4 linked regions of the Homo sapiens genome follow. The protein of the gene in region 4 purifies or fractionates together with the protein of the main gene of each other region. This does not show direct contact. Each region holds a gene or a part of one and is shown on either strand. Other genes may lie near its edges.

Evidence for each region.
Region 1: the proteins of DKKL1 (region 4) and NUCB1 purify together in Homo sapiens (co-immunoprecipitation; 3 studies listed by BioGRID and IntAct, with this or other methods). This does not show direct contact.
Region 2: the proteins of DKKL1 (region 4) and AFG2B purify together in Homo sapiens (affinity purification with mass spectrometry; 2 studies listed by BioGRID and IntAct, with this or other methods). This does not show direct contact.
Region 3: the proteins of DKKL1 (region 4) and FRAS1 purify together in Homo sapiens (co-immunoprecipitation; 3 studies listed by BioGRID and IntAct, with this or other methods). This does not show direct contact.

What each region holds. Positions count from the first base shown.
Region 1 is NC_000019.10:48,913,484-48,917,311, forward strand, and holds part of NUCB1 (nucleobindin-1 precursor), read left to right. Parts: coding exon 1-81; intron 82-3,828. UniProt on the Homo sapiens protein: Major calcium-binding protein of the Golgi which may have a role in calcium homeostasis. Acts as a non-receptor guanine nucleotide exchange factor which binds to and activates alpha subunits of guanine nucleotide-binding proteins (G proteins).
Region 2 is NC_000015.10:45,408,508-45,412,335, forward strand, and holds part of AFG2B (ATPase family gene 2 protein homolog B), read left to right. Parts: intron 1-1,864; coding exon 1,865-2,023; intron 2,024-3,828. UniProt on the Homo sapiens protein: ATP-dependent chaperone part of the 55LCC heterohexameric ATPase complex which is chromatin-associated and promotes replisome proteostasis to maintain replication fork progression and genome stability.
Region 3 is NC_000004.12:78,448,495-78,452,322, forward strand, and holds part of FRAS1 (extracellular matrix organizing protein FRAS1 isoform 1 precursor), read left to right. Parts: intron 1-1,656; coding exon 1,657-1,845; intron 1,846-3,277; coding exon 3,278-3,397; intron 3,398-3,680; coding exon 3,681-3,828. UniProt on the Homo sapiens protein: Involved in extracellular matrix organization. Required for the regulation of epidermal-basement membrane adhesion responsible for proper organogenesis during embryonic development. Involved in brain organization and function.
Region 4 is NC_000019.10:49,366,084-49,371,422, reverse strand, and holds part of DKKL1 (dickkopf-like protein 1 isoform 1 precursor), read right to left. Parts: intron 2,719-5,339; exon of another isoform or gene 280-2,718; intron 1-279. UniProt on the Homo sapiens protein: Involved in fertilization by facilitating sperm penetration of the zona pellucida. May promote spermatocyte apoptosis, thereby limiting sperm production. In adults, may reduce testosterone synthesis in Leydig cells.

The sequences.
Region 1 (3,828 bases), 450 kb from region 4:
CCCAGTTGAAGGAGGTGTGGGAGGAGCTGGATGGACTGGACCCCAACAGGTTTAACCCCAAGACCTTCTTCATACTGCATGGTAAGGTGGGGAGGGAGTTCCAGAGCCAGGATGAACCCTAGATTCTGACCCTTCTAGGACCTGAATGCTAAGAGGGGTGTGTCTGTCCCAGGAGGGCTTAGTCAGGCCCAAGAGCCAAGCCTATGTCCCCTGGTTGACCAGACAGCCCTGCCTCTCCCGACTACAAGGCTAGGATCTGCATGGAAGGGTTGGGCCTCTTTTCTAGCAAACACCAGACCTCGGGGTTCTAAGGACAGCTGGTGTCCTCTGTAAGCAAACCAGGCTTGGCTAGGCCTGGGCCCTCTGCCCACAGCAGCCCAGGAGAAGCCCTGGTCCACTCTGGGAACCCTGTCGCTAGGAGTGGGTTGTTCCCTAAGAACCAGGCCTCCAGAAGCCTGGAAAACCCTTTCTCTTTTTCTTTTTCCTTTTTTTTTTTTTTTTTGAGATGGAGTCTTGCTCTGTTGCCCAGGCTGGAGTGCAGTGGCATGACCTCGGCTCACTGCAACCCCCTGCCCTCCGCCTCCCGGGTTCAAGTGATTCTCCTGCCTCAGCCTCCCGAGTAGCTGGGATTACAGGCATGCACCACCATGCCCGGCTAACTTTTGTATTTTTAGTAGAGATGGGGTTTCACCATGTTGGCCAGGCTGGTCTCGAACTCCCAACCTCGTGTGATCTGCCCCCTCAGCATCCCAAAGTGCTAGGATTACAGGCGTGAGTCACTGCGCCCGGCCTCGAAAGCCCTTTCTCTATGGTGGATCAAAGGCACACTCCCCTCAGTCTGTCTCTTCCTGTCTGGAAATGTGGCCTGGGGTTGCCAAGCCCCCTCAGGTATGCCAAGCACCCTGTCCCAGAATCTGTAGCCGGTCAGATAAGCTTAGCAAGGCCTGACTCATTCATTCAGCAAACCTTTCCTAAGTTCCCTCTAAGGACCAAGCTTTGTCAAGACCCCGTGGATACAACTGTAAACAAAACAAAGTACCTCCCCCTCAGAGCCAGTGATCAGGCACACAGATCATACCATACTTTAGTAACTCCACGAGACTGTACAGTATGAGAGGTGCTAGCATTTTACGTAAGCTGCCAATTAAATTAACGTACCATTGAAAACAAGATGCGTCCTGGGCTGGGTGTAGTGGCTCATGTCTGTAATCCCAGCACTTTGGTAGGCCAAGGTGGAAGATGGCTTGAGCCCAGGAATTTAAGACCAGCCTGGACAACAAAGTGAGACCCTGTCTCTATTTAAAAAAAAAAAATAGACCAGGCGTGGTGGCTCACGCCTATAATCCCAGCATTTTGGGAGGTTGAGGTGGGAGGATCACCTGAGGTCAGGAGTTCAAGACCAGCCTGGCCAACATGGTGAAACCCCATCTCCACAAAAATACCAAAATTAGCTGGGCATGATCGTGAGTGCCTGTAATCCCAGCTACTCAGGAGGCTGAGGTGGGAGAATCACTTGAACCCGGGAGGCAGAGTTTGCAGTGAGCCAAGATCGTGCCATTGCACTGCAGCCTGGGTGACAGAGCAACACTCCATCTCAAAAAAACAAAGAAAAAAATAAAAATTAAAAGTTAAATAAATAAAGATACATCCCTATTTCAGGGGTGATAAAATAGAAGAACACAAAAGTGCATCTCAGAATCAACGAAGGTTCTAGGCCGGGTGTGGTGGCTCACGCCTGTAATCCCAACACTTTGGGAGGCCTAGGCGGGTGGGTCCCTTGAGGCCAGGAGTTGGAGACCAGCCTGGCCAACATGGCAAAACCCAGTCTCTACTAAAAATACAAAAATTAAAAAACAAAACAAAAATTAGCCAGGCATGGTAGTGCTCACCTATAGTCCCAGCTACTCAGGAGGCTGAGGTAGGAGAATCGCTTGAACCCGGGAGGCGGAAGGCGGGGGTTGCAATGAGCTGAGATCACACCACTGCACTCCAGCCTGGGCAACAGAGTGAGACTCTGTCTCAAAAAGCAATAGAAAGTAAAAAAGAATTAGAAGATTCTGTAATGGGGTCTCAGGTAGTGACGTGTACTACCTCGCAGCCTTGACCACCCAGGTTCAAGTGATCCTCCCCCTCAGCCTCCCAAGTATCTGGGACCACAGGCACGTACCACTATGCCTGGCTAATTTTTTTAATTTTTAGTAAAGGCAAGGTTTTACCATGTTGCCCAGGCTGGTCTCAAACTCCTTTGCTCAAGCGATCCACCTATCTTGGCCTCCCGAAGTGCTGGGGTTACAAGCATGAGCCATCCCACCGGGCACCACCCCCCGTGTTTTGTTTTGTTTTTTTTTTGAGACAGGATCTTGCTATGTTGCCCAGGCTGGAGTCAAACTCCAGGCCTCAAACAATCCTCCTGCCTCAGTCACCTGAGTAGCTGAGACTGCAGGTGTGTGCCACTGCGCCCAGCTTTAAAGATGTTTAATTGTACAGTTCAATAGTATTAAGTATATTTACACTGTCATGCAACCAATTCTGAGAGCTCTTCATCTCGCACAACCGAAACCGTATCCATTAAACCACTCGCCCTCCCCTTCTTTCCCCTGCTCTCTAGCAACCACCATTCTATTTTCTGTCTCTATGATTTTGACTATTTTAGGTACTTCATGCAAGTAGAATCTTTTGGTATTTGTCGTGTGTGTGTGTGTGTGTGTGTGTGTGTTTGGCTTATTTCACTTAGCATAATGGTGAGGAACTGAAGTTTTCATTCTACTGGATATTAATTTCTATTTCAATTGCCCCATGTGGCTAGTGGCTGCTGTACTGGAGTCCCAGCACAGCTCTAGAGAGGACATTTGGGCTGGATGCGGTGGCTCACGCCTGTAATCCCAGCACTTTGGGAGGCCGAGGTGGGTGGATCCCTTGAGTCCAGGAGTTCAAGGCCAGCCTGGGCAACATGGCACAAACCCATCTCTACAAATAAAATACAAAAATTAGCTGGGTGTGGTGGCGTGCATCTGTAGTCCCAGCTCCTTGGGAGGCAGAGGTGGGAGGATCACTTGAGTCCAGGAATTCAAGGCTGCAGTGAGCTATGATCATACCAGTGCCCTCCAGCCTGGGCAACAGAGTGAAACCCTGTCTCTAAAAAATAGAAAATAGGCTGGGCTCAGTGGCTCACGCCTGTAGTCCCAGCACTTTCGGAGGCCAAGGCAGGCAGATCAGGAGCTCAAGAGATCGAGACCATCCTGGCCAACATAGTGAAACCCCGTCTCTACTAAAAATACAAAAATTATCTGGGCATGGTGGCACGCACCTGCAGTCCCAGCTACTCAGGAGGCTGAGGCAGGAGAATCACTTAAACCCTGGAGGTGGAGGTTGCAGTGAGCTGAGATCATGCCACTGCACTCCAGCCTGGCAACAGAGCGAGACTCTGTCTCAAAAATAAATAAACAAATAAATAGGCCCGGCGCAGTGGCTTACCCCTATAATCCCAGCACTTTGCGAAGCCAAGGCGGCTGGATCCCTTGAGACCAGGAGTTCAAGACCAGCCTGGGCAACATGGCAAAACCCCATCTCTATGAAAACAAATACAAAAATTAGCTGGGTGTGGTGGCGTGCATCTGTAGTCCCAGCTACTTGGGAGGCTGAGGTGGGAGGATCACTTGAGCCGAGGAGTTCAAGGCTTCAGTGAGCTACGATCACACCATTGCACTCCAGCCTGGGTGACAGAGTGAGACCCTGTCTCTAAAAAATAAAAAAATAAAAACCTTATTTAATCTTTTTAATCAGGCAGTCCCTACAGACCAGAATAGGTTCAGAGCAACTCCCTATACC
Region 2 (3,828 bases), on a different chromosome or scaffold from region 4:
ATGTTCCCATATGTCACCACAGTATGGTGATGTATAGTGTTGTGTCCTTAGAGCCTCACATGTAGAGGCACAGAGTGTACATTGGTTCCTCATTGGTGATGCTAACTTTTATCAACTAGTTCAGGCAGTGCGCAGTTTCTCCACTGTGGAACTGCTATTTTTCCCTTTGCCACTAATGAGAAATCTGTGGGGAGACACTTTGAGATATCCTGCTCCTCATCAAACTTTCAGGCTGGGCACAGTGGCTTACACCTGTAGTCCCAGCTGCTCAGGAGGCTGAGATAGAATGATCACTTGAGCCCAGGTGTTCGAGGCTCAATGAGCTGTTGCCTCAATGCCACTGCACTCCAGCCTGGGCAGCAGAGCAAGACCCTGTCTCATAAATGAATAAACTTTTACTCCCCTCAACATAGCATCCAATTCTTGCTCATAACAGCCTTTACTATCATGATTGCAAGACGGGCGATTTTTTTAATTCCAATATTCCCTCTACCTCATTTTGAATTGAAGAAATTTAGTTAACACAGTAATGAATGAGTACTGGTTCTTCCTGTCATATTGGCAGACATTTAAGAGTTTGGAAATGGGCCACGTGCGGTGGCTCACACCTATAATCCCAGCACTTTGGGAGGCTGAGATGGGTGGGTCAGTTGAGGTCAGGAGTTCAAGACCAGCCTGGCCAACATGGGGAAACCCCGTCTCTGCTAAAAATACAAAAATTAGTCAGGTGTGGTGGCTCATGCCTATAAATCCCAGCTACTCGGTAGGCTGAGGCACGAGAATCATTTGAACCCAGGAGGCGGAGGCTGCAGGGAGCCAAGATCACAGCACTGCACTCCAACCTGGGTGACAGAGTGAGACCCCGCCAAAAAAAAAAAAAAAAAGAGTTTGATAATGTCTGTACTGGAGAGGTGTGGAGAGAACACAGCTTCATATTATCGGAGAAGAATAAATTGTTGCAGCTTCCTTAGAGGACAATTTGGTAATAGCTGTCAAAATTGTATATGTGTGTACTTGTAAACCCAGTAATTCTACTTTGAGGAAATTATTACATAAAATACTTGAACATGAGTTTGAACATGGTGGCTCATGCCTGTAATCCCAGCACTTTGGGAGGCTGAGGTGGGAGGATCGCTCGAGCCCATGAGTTCCAGACCAGCCTGGGCAACATAGGGAGACCGCATCTCTACAAAAAAAAAATATATATATTTTTTTAATTAGCCAGGCTGGTGGCACATACCTGTAGTTCTAGCTACTCCGGAGGGTGAGGTGCAAGGATTACTTGAGCCTGGGAGACTGCAGTGAGCTATGATAACATCACTGCATTCCAGCCTGGGTAACAGAGTGAGACCCTGTCTCAAAATAAACAAATACTTGAACATGAGCACAAAGACTTTTTCAGTTGCAGCTTTGTTTTTAATATCTAAAGACTGGGGATGACCTAACGTTTGTCAGAAAGGTGTAGTTGGGGTAAATTCAGTAGTGTATTATGGAATTGTCAAAAAGAATGACGTAGAACTGTGTTAGTTGACATGAAAAGCTCTCTAAGATAGGTGAAAGAAGAAAAGTACAGGCTGATATAGTATGGTTCCATTTGTGTATCTGTTTAAAAGGATATATGTATGCTTACTAGCATAACATACTGGAAAAATACACAAACTCTTGACATCTTTCGGGGAAGAATTACTGGCAGGAATTGGCAGGGAGACATTTAATTCTTTGTACTATGTATATAAATTGTTTTTATAATGATAACAAAATAACTTTACAAATCCAAAAGAAGATTTTAAAAACAAATTGTGCTATAAAAAAAGACCAACCTAATTTTTGGTTTGATTTTGCTTTTTTGGGTGTATTTCTTCAGAACCAGGACAATCCTGTGATTGATGAAATAGACTTCCTTGAAGCTTTTAAAAATATTCAGCCCTCATCGTTTCGAAGCGTCATTGGATTAATGGATATCAAGCCTGTTGACTGGGAGGAGATTGGTGGCCTTGAAGATGTAAAACTGAAGTTAAAACAGGTAAGACAGATAATCTACTTAATCCAGTAGGATATTACAGATTAACATTCTGTGCATTTATGATGACAACATACTGCGCTGAAACTGCTCTTGCTCCTATCACTAATGTGATCCTAACATCTAAATCCAATGATTGCTTTTCAGTCCTTATTTAATTGGACTTCTGTGGATGTCTAAACTGGTTTTTATAATTTCCCACCTCGACCCTCTCTTTGTTTTTGCTTTAAAGAGTTTATAACCTAAGGCTGGGTGTGGTGGCTTATGTCTATAATCCCAGCACTTTGGGAGGCCAAGGGAGGAGGATTGCTTGAGTTCAGGAGTTCAAAACCAGCCTGGGCAACATAGCAAGCCCTTGTCGCTATTTAAAAAAAAATAAGTTTATAATCTAAGGCTGGGCGCAGTGGCTCATACCTATAATCTCAGCATTTTAGGAGGTTGAGGTGGGTGGATCACCTGAGGTCAGGAGTTCAAGACCAGCCTGGCCAACATGGTGAAACCCCGTCTCTACTAAAAATACAAAAATTAGCTGGGCATGCTGGCAGGTGCCCATAATCCCAGCTACTCGGAAGGCTGAGGCAGGAGAATCACTTGAACCCGGGAGGCAGAGGTTGCAGTGAGCCAAGATCCCACCACTGCACGACAGCCTGGGCAACAGAGAAACCGTGTCCGGGGGGAAAAAAGTGTATAACCTATAGTCTTAGCACTTTAGAAGGCCGAGACAGGAGGATCTCTTGAGGCCAAGAGTTCAAGACCAGACTGGGCAACAAAGTAAGACTCCCCATCTCTATTTAAAAAAATTATTTTGACACATGTTTGCTCTGTCACCCAGGCTGGAGTATTGTGTCACAAACACAGCTCACTGCACCCTTGAACTCCTGGGCTCAAGCAGTCCTTCTGCCTCAGTGCCCCACCAAGTAGCTGGGACTACAGGTGCATACCACCACGCCTGGCTAATTTTTAAATTTTTTGTAGAGATAGAGTCCCACTGTGCTACTCAAGCTGGCCTTGAACTCCTGGGCTTAAACAGTCCTCCAACTCGGCCTCCTAAAATGGTGGGATTATAGTCATGAGCCACCATGCCTGGCCTACAAAAAATTTTTTTAAATTAGCCAGGTGTGGTAGCACGTGCTTATGGTCCTAGCTACTCAGGAGGATCACTTGAGGCTTGACCCCAGGACACCCAGGAGATCGAGGCTGCAGTGAGCTATGATTGCACCACTGCACTGCAGCTTGGGCAACAGAGCGAGATCCTGTGTCTTTAAAAAAAAATTAAAAAACAATTTTGACTGGGCATGGTGGCTTACACCTGTAATCCCAGCACTTTGGGAGGCCGAGGCAGGCAGATCACCTGAGGTCAGGAATTAGAAACCAACCTGGCTGGCATGGAGAAACCCCATTTCTACTAAAAATGCAAAAAATTAGCCAGGCGTGGTGGCGCATGCCTGTAATCCCAGCTACTCAGGAGGCTGAGGCAGGAGAATCGCTTGAACCCGGGAGGTGGAGGTTGCAGTGAGCCAAGACCACGCCATTGTACTCCAGCTTGAGCAACAAAAGTGAAACTCCATCTCAAAAAAACAAAAACAATTTATAGGCCGGGCGTGGTGGCTCACACCAGTAATCCCAGCACTTTGGGAGGCCGAGGCAGGAGGATCACGAGGTCAGGAGTTCAAGACCAGCCTGGCCAACATGGTGAAACCCTGTCTCTACTAAAAATACAAAAATCAGCCAGGTGTGGTGGCGCAAGCCTGTAATCCCAACTACTGGGAAGGCTGAGGCAGGAGAATCGCTTCAACCTAAGAGGCTGA
Region 3 (3,828 bases), on a different chromosome or scaffold from region 4:
GACAAATGTGAACCTCTAAAATTCTTTGGACCAAATGCTTATGTCTGTGAATTAGAGAAAAGATTGAGAAGAGTTTATAATATTTCCAGGGCCCTCAAAAATCTTAATTTATTCAACTCCTCCTAGGCCCAGGTTTCCTCTAACATTACTCCCATTCAACAAACCCCATGGAAACAAATAACGAAATATAGCAGAATTTTTAAGACGCTTATTTTTTTACAAAATGCATGGAGGGTAAGCTGGGAAACCATCATGCATTAAAAGTGATTATACAAATAATTGAGAATTATCAGATATGGTATTCTAGGGTTTAACATTCACAATTTTGCTCATGTTTAAGCAACATTGGAGGACCTGTGACAAGTGTGAGTCTTGAACAGTTTGCAGTAGGAAGTTACTTAATTAAGAAGTGGACCTTTTGCCCAGGGTGTCTGCATCTTACTAGAGTTCTGTTGTTTGTTTGTTCTTAGTTTCATGTGTATTTTGCAGTGAAAAATGTATGGTATAATAGTATTGGAAAACTTGGTAGTTCTCAAAGGTCTTAAATATCAAGTCTGAGATTTGACTTTATCCTACTTATAAGCTAATAAACTATCCTGTTACTGTTTCATGGATGCTGGTAGAAGATACAAGATTCCTCCATCAGAAATACGGCACTCTTGTTACTTATAGCACAGCAGGCAGCATGGGCATCAGCAGGTTTGCATCGGCTCCCTCTGCCATCCCAGTCCCATAGGGGTGATGTAGAGGGCCCAGACAGACACTTTCGTGTGCAGTAGGATGCATCACAGAGGGGAATACTGAGCTTGGGGAATTCTCCATGTTACAGCAGCAGAATGCAAGTCTTATTTTTGTCTGAGAGGAAGACATTACCTCATCCCTCAAGGTTGCTCTCTGAGAAACGGCCTGGGTAAAGCATGGTCAGGGTCTTGTGTTCTTGGTATTACCCACTAAGAACATGTCACTCCAAACACCAGGATGTATTATGCATGAATAACTAGGCTCTACTTTACCGGGATTTACTATTTTTAACATGATAAAGCGGCTGGGTAATAAAGCAAGTGACAAGACCCTGAGAAGAGGAGTTTGCCATTAGCCAGGGCCTTATCTTCATCCCCAACACCTGCGCAGTGTCCAGGGCCCAGAGGCTCAGATCTCCTTGCTCCTAACATCCTCTGTCCTGAAGGATGCTGATTTTCACTACTTTGTCTGACATGGCAACAAGATATGTTTGAGTTTATGTAAAGCTATATTTTTCTGATTTGGTGATTCTCAAGACAGTAAGTAAACTAAATCCAAGCAGGTTTCATCATAGATCTAGGAGTTATTTTTGTCACAGAACTGGGAGTTATTCCACAGATCTAGGTATTAACTGGTAGGTCACTGAGTCGGAGGAGCATAGGAGAGAATGAAAATGGATCAGAAGGAAAAAAGTGCTTAGGTGTTGACTCAAGGGAAAATTAGTAAATTGAAATGTCGGTACTCTTTCACTAGGGAAATTATAATTTATTCAGCTGGAAACTGAGAAGGGCAAGTGCCTGGTACCTAGATCCAATGAATATGTGATAATTTAGCCTCCAGTCTCCTAAAATCATTTGACATCCCGTTCAAAGGAAATGTTGGGGAATAACCTACTCTCTTCCGTTCTCTTCCAAGGGTCTGTAGCACGCATCACAGAACAGCACTTGAAAGTGACAGATATTGACTCAGATGACCATCAGGTTATGTACATCATGAAGGAAGATCCTGGTGCAGGGCGCCTGCAGATGATGAAGCATGGCAACCTGGAGCAAATTTCTATTAAAGGCCCCATCCGAAGTTTCACCCAGGCAGACATTAGCCAAGGTCAGCCAGTTCTCTTCTGCCTACCAGGCTTCCGTGGACTGCACCTACACTAGTAAAATGAGAATTAAATATCTGGTAGTCTATGGCAATAAACTGTGCACTCTTTGTTTTGAGGAGCTTCATTTGTTCTCTTCCTTGTTTTCTTATTTTTTTTTTCTTTTTGTTTTTAAAAAAGCCCTATCTTTCTTGGTTGAAATGTGTTCATGCTTTGACTTAGCATTGGTGGCATTTGCAGCTATTTTGGAGAGAAAAAGTTATTTTGACTTGCTGTGATGCTAAAAAGTATATATGAGAGAGAGAGAAGGAAAAAAGAAGTGAGTTGGGATGGATTAAGGTGAAAATTATGCCTTCCTTAGGTGAGCAATTTATATCTCTTTTCAGCTCCCCAAAGAGCACAAGTTAATGAACTAAGCAAAATGGAAGGGCATAAATCGGAGCTGCCTAGGGGAAATTACATGGCACATCCCTCCATCAGGAAATGCTGATGTAATGTAAAGGCATAAATGTTAAATGCTACGTAGTTACTGTACAGTGCTTTCAGGGATACAAAAGGGAAAAAAAGTTATATATTGGGGAAAACGTAATCCACAGTCTTGTGATTATGTGCAATTCTGTTTAGAAGTGGAAATATACCCCTGCGGATAAAAAACAAGTGTCCCGCCCACACACTAACACCTAAAATTGACAACAGCTGAATTCTCATTGGAACTGGCTGTGCTTTAGTGAAGGGGAGTGGAAGAGGCAAAAGGAAAGTAATTCCTTAATTATTTCATATGTCGGTGTCTACTTTTAAAAGATAAGACCAGCCCCCTCTTCCCAGAGATTTGGTTATATTTACACAACCAAATTGAAAGATGCTTTTAAGTGATGCTGTAGGTTAACAAAAATGTAATACATTTTTGTTGTACTTCTCCTTTTAGATCCTTTTGAGTTCTATGTGGAGTTTATTTGTTGGTTGGCTATAGCCCATGTTGCTCCGTGAACTGGGCAATGAAAAGTGAAGAGTTCTGGGAGAATGTGAGGTGCAGCTCTGTGTCTTCTTGCCCTTGTGATTCCAATATATAATAGGGTCACTCCAGGTGATGTGGGTGTGGTCAGTGCACATTTACACATGGGCAGTTTTGTGGATCTCGTTTTCATGAGGTGTCCTTAGAGGCTGAGCTGATCTTCCAAAAAGGCTCAGCCTTAACCATGAGAAATGTCACTTGGGGTGATTTTGTTATGAGAAGGTCTTTGGTTATGAGAAAGTAGATGGTGGGAGAGGAAAAGGAGGAAATGAAAACTTTAGATTAAAATGTCAAAAGCAGTGTCAAAGCGAGGAAGGTGTGAACTGATTCATTGGTGTGAACACCAATTGAATTCACACCTCTTGCTTCAGAAATAAGGGCAGAAAGCACTAATAGCAAATCTTGATTTTTTTTCCTTTTTATAGGCCACGTAGAATATAGTCATGGAACAGGAGAACCTGGAGGGAGCTTTGCTTTTAAATTTGATGTGGTTGATGGAGAAGGCAACAGATTGATTGACAAGTCATTTTCCATCAGCATTCTAGGTAAAGAGACATTTGATTTTCTAATATAAAACTATTTTAGCAGTTCTGAGGTTATATAGTTTACACTTTGTTCACCTCGAGGCTCGAGTCCTTCCCTTTACCTAGCTGGTGTGGAAACTGAAAATCATACCCCCTTTATTGCACGAAGCCCTGGCTCCTTGGTGTGCTCTCTAACACACAGGCCTAGAGATGACTCTGACCTTACTTCTTGGCACCAGGCCTAGAATTAAAGAAAGGAGGCTGAGAAGATCCCATTTCAAATCACTATTTCTGATATTTTCAGAAGACAAATCCCCACCAGTCATCACCACCAATAAAGGACTGGTCTTGGATGAAAACTCAGTGAAGAAAATCACCACCCTGCAGCTGTCTGCCACTGACCAGGACAGTGGGCCTACAGAATTGATCTACAGAATCACCAGACAGCCCCA
Region 4 (5,339 bases):
AATGACAGCTTGCATCTTAAAACAGGTTAAAGAAAGAATATTTTTTAAAAAATTAAGAGAATGTAAAAGTCCAGAGAGAGTAGCAAAATCCCCAAAACTCTCACGGTCCAGATGGTTGCTGGGCCAGGGTGAGGTCTTGTGACCCGGCCCTTCCAGGTGTTCAAAAAATCTGTAGGGACTTCTAGCATAAAAAACAAAGGTCACAACAGGTCAGGTCAGGCTCTTCAGCATCCTCATCCTCCTTGAACTCACTGGGTTACATTTCTTCTGCCTTTTCAGGCTTTGTCTCTATTGTTTTTTCTGCAGGTGCTGGGAGAGTACTTGTTGGCATATGCTGATGGTCATCTGCATGATTGGACTCTTCCATATCTGCTCCAGAAGCTTGAGTGTCTCCACTACAGGAAGAGTCTTTGTCATTACTGGTTTTAGAAAAGCTGTCCTCAGAGCCACCATTTTTCTTGATGCCTTTCACGGTGACAACGGCCAGCACTTGCCCTGAGGACATCTCTTCAGGAAGCTCTGCTACAAGAATGGCGAAGCAATCTTTTTTCTTGGCATCTCATTTTGCCCTGTGAAGAGATAGGGCTGCTTCTGGGGACTTTTCACTGATCACCATCCCCGCCAGGTCATCCTTGAAATCATTTACCTGGACTCCCTAGGGTGCCTTCACATTACATGGGGCCTCCTTTTCCTTGATGTTGTTGGCAAATTCTTTCACTGGATTATCTATGGGAACTTTTTCCTTGGCACATTTGTCGGCATTCAGATCCAGTGGAGCATCCTCATGTGAGCTTTCGTTGGTGAGGTCTTCCACCAGGGTATCCTCCATGGGAACTTTTTCCTTGGCTCATTTGTCAGCCTTTAAATTTAGCAAAACATCCCCATCTGAGCTTTTGTTGGCAAGGTCTTCCACCAGGGTATCCTCCGTGGGAACTTTTCCTTGGTGAATTCATCAGCCTTCAATCCAGTAGAGCGTCCTCATCTGAGCTTTCATTGGCAAGGTCTTTCACCAGGGTATCCTCTGTGGGAACTTTTTCTTTCATGCGTTTGTCAACCTTCAAGTCCAGTGAGGCATCCTTATCTGAGCTTTCGTTTCCAAGGTCTTCCACCAGGGTATCCTCCATGGGAACTTTTTCCTTGGCACGTTCTTTGGCCTTCAAATCCAGTGGGGTGTCCTAATCTGAAATTTCATTGGCGAGGTCTTCCAGAGGATCCTCCATGGCACCTTTTTCCTTGGCACATTCATTGGCCTTCCAAAGCCATGGGGCATTTTCATCTGAGCTTTCACTGGCTTGGTATCCTTCCAGGATATCTTCCATGTGAACACTTGCCTGAGTTGCTGAGTCTGTCAAGTGAACAGCAAGAACCTGTTCAGAGGAAGTGTCGCTGGTCTGCTCCCCTGCCAGGTTGTCCTTGAAATCTTCAGATGGCTACCTGCCAGGGTGCACATGAGGATGACACCTGCGGTGGCACATTCTCTCTCTAAAACTGCGCTGGCAGACCATGGATTCGCCATGGACAGTGGAGTCTCCTGAAACCTGAGTATCCACTGCTGCATCTTGGAGGCAATACTCTAGCCTTCACGAGCACCCTTCTACTCCAGTCAGGCTGAAGTCTCCCTCGCTGTCACCGCCACAACTGTAGGAGGTGAGCCACAGAGCCGTGCCATCTGCAAGCTCCAAACTCCACCTCACCACAGGTGACTCCTCCTTCACTTTCTCCTCCAGCCTTTCTCAGAGTGGCTGGGCGGGCAAAGCCAGAAAAGCCACTCTGGCCACACTGCAGCCTCTGTTGCCACCACCAACTGCAGTGAGGCAAGCCATGGTGCCACAGGCTCCAACCTCCAGCATGTGGCAGGTGATTCCCCTTCCCCTTCTCCTGGTTCTCTAAGCCAGGAACAGAGTAGCTCGGTGGGCAGATACAGAAGAGCCTAAAATCTGTTGTACTATTTTAAGAAAAACTTCTCTTGCCTGTAATCCCAGCACTTTGGGAGGCCGAGGTGGGTGGATCACCCAAAGTCAGGAATTCAAGACCAGCCTGGCCAACATAGCAAAACCTCATCGCTACTAAAAATACAAAAAACAAAAAACAAACAAAAAAAAATTAGCTGGATATTGTAGTGCGTGCCTGTTATCCCTGCTCTTTGGGAGGCTGAGGCAGGAGAATCACTTGAACCTGTGTTAGAATCAAAATGCTTGTTTCTTGGTGTCGCAAGGAAAAATTAGCATTCAGACAAAAAGTTTTCTCAGCAAGGCAATTTTACTTTCTGTAGAAAGGGTGCTGCCCATCAGCAATCCTGCCAGGAGAGCACAATGAACAAAGAAAGGCAGGAATATTTATCCCTTATGCATTGGGTCCTTACTGCTGTGTCCTGTCTCCATTGGTTGGAGCTGGACCTCACAGTCTAAGCTAAACCCAATTGGCTAACAACTTAAAAAACTTTCTTAAATAGGTAAAGGCAATGGAGAACAAAGGAAAAGAGGAAGTTGCTTGCCAAAAGACTTGGAGAAGTAATAACATTTCCAAATAAGGAAAGGGCATAAGCTGTGAGCTGGGACATGCTTGAGCACGTCGAGACCAAATATCTTGGTTAACGTACAAGGACACAGAAGGTACTTATTTCCTTATATCTAACAACTACATAAGATATGGTTTAAAAAAGAGTTACTAACACAAAGCAAAGAGGCTTAAAAAAAGTTAATTAAAAATATTATTTCTAACACTTGTGATTTATTATTTAATAAAAACTTTAAAGAGAAACTTTTTTACTTTCCACAACCTAGAAGGTGGAGGTTGCTGTGAGCCAAGATGGCACCACTACACTCCAGTCTGGGTGACAGAGGGAGACTCCATTTCCAAAATAATAAAGTATGTTTTTTAAAAAAAACTTTTCTGTAGTCTTGAAATTTTATTTATTTATTTATTTATTTATTTTTTGAGACAGAGTCTCACTCTGTTGCCCAGGCTAGAGTGCAGTGGCATGATCTGGGCCCACTTTAGACTCAACCTCCTCGTCTCAAACAATCCTCCCACCTCAGGCTTCTGGGTAGCTGGAACCACAGCACACACCACCACACCTGGCTACTTTTTTGATTTTTTTTTTTTTTTTGGAGACAGAGTCTCACTCTGTCCCCCAGGCTGGAGTGCAGTGACATGATCTTGGCTCACTGCAACCTCTGCCTCCCGGGTTCAAACAATTCTTTTACCTCAGCCTCCAGAGTAGCTGGGACTACAGGTGCAGGCTGCCATGCCCGGCTAATTTTTCGTATTTTAGTAGAGACAGGGTTTCACCGTGTTGCCCAGGCTGGTCTCGAACTCCTGAGCTCAGGCAATCTGCCTGCCTTGGCCTCCCAAATTGCTAGGATTACAGGCGTAAGCCAGCATGCCTGGCCTACTTTTTAAATTTTTTTGTAGAGATGAAGACTCCCTCTATTGCCCAGGGTGATCTCAAACTCGTGGGCTCAAGTCATCCTCCTGCCTCAGCCTCCCAAATTGCTAGGATTATAGGTGTAAGCCACTGTGCCTGTCCTGAAATTTTTAAAATAAAATTTTAAATAAACATTTTTAAAATGAAGATATTGCATGGGTGTACGTGGGTATCATATGGATGTATCAAGCTCTTTGGGTTTCTTAAAACTTTTCAGGATTAAAAATACCCTGATTTTGCAAAGCACTTCATAATTAGAATCACTTGTAGAAGTTTACCAAAGGTGGCCTGGCCAGGCATGGTGGCTCACGCCTATAATCCCAGCACCTTGGGAGGCCAAGGCAGTTGGATCACCTGAGGTCAGGAGTTCAAGAGCAGTCTGGCCAACATGATGAAACCTTGTCTCTCTAAAAATAGAAAAATTAGTCAGGTGTGGTGGCAGTCACCTGTAATCCCAGCTACACAGGAGGCTGAGGCAGGAGAATCACTTGAACCTGGGAGATGGAGGTTGCAGTGAGCTGAGATCGCACCATTGCACTCCAGCCTGGGGGACGAGCGAGACTTCGTCTCCAAAAAAAAAAAAAAAAAAGTTTACCAAAGGTGAAATACACAACGCATTTAGCATTCATACAGCTCTTTGGTATTAAAAATCACATTTTGGGCCAGGCGCAGTAGCTCATGCCTATAATCCCAGCACTTTGGGAGGCCGAGGCAGGTGGATCAGCTGAGGTCAGGAGTTCGAGACCAGCCTGGCCAACATGGCCAACATGGCGAAACCCTGTCTACACTAAAAATTCAAAAATTAGCTGGACGTGGTGGCACGTACTTGTAGTCCCATCTACTTGGGAGGCTAGGGCTGGAGAATCACTTGAACCTCAGTGGCGGAGGTTGCAGTGAGCTGAGATTGTGCCATTGCACTCTAGCCTGGGCAACAGAGCGAAACTCCATCTCAAAAAAAACAAAAAAAGAAGAAGAAAATCACATTTTGGGCCAGGTGTGGTGGCTCATGTCTATAATCCTAGTACTTTGGGAGGCAGAGGCGGGCGGATTGCCTGAGCTCAGGAGTTCGAGACCAGCCTGGGAAACATGGCGAAACCCCGTCTCTACTAAAAATAGAAAAATTAGCTGGGTGTGGTGGTCCGCGCCTGTAGTTCCAGCTATTCCGGAGGCTGAGGTGGGAGGATCATTTGAGTCTGGGAGTTGGAGGTTGCAGTGAGCTGAGATTGTGCCACTGTACTCCAGCCTGGATAACAGAGCAAGACTCCATTCTCAAAAAAAAAAACCAAAAAAACAAACAAAAAAAACCCCAAAAATCAAAACCACAATAACAACAAAAACATTTTGGAGTTTATAATGGAGAGGTTTACCAACCACTTTGGGATAGATTGAAAAATACTCTGAAGTTTGCAGAGCACTTACTTTGAGACAAAAACACAATTTGGGGTTTATGAGGGTGAAGCTTTCCAAGCACTTAGAATTAAAAACCCTTCTTGGTTTATAAAACATTTTGGTGCTCATAGAAACACTTTGATTGACTATTATGTAGTTAAAAAAAAAAAAGAAAACCACTTTGATACAAAACCCTCTAGGGTCTACTAAACCCTTGCAGATGTATTCTGAGGTCAAAAATCTCATTTCTGACAGTTGGATTGCCCCACTTGAGAGATGGCAAAACTGAGGCTCAGAAGGAGGAAGTTCCACACAGAGGAGTAAGAGGGTCAGTTCCTCTTCTTGTCCTCCTAAACTACAGAAAATGTTAGGGCCTCACCAGGCATGGTGGCTCATGCCTGTAATCCCAGCACTTTGGAAGGCCAAGATGGGCAGATCACTTGAGGTCAGGAGTTCAAGACCAGCCTGACCAACATGGAGAAACCCTGTCTCTACTAAAAAAATACAAAAAATTAGCCGGGCG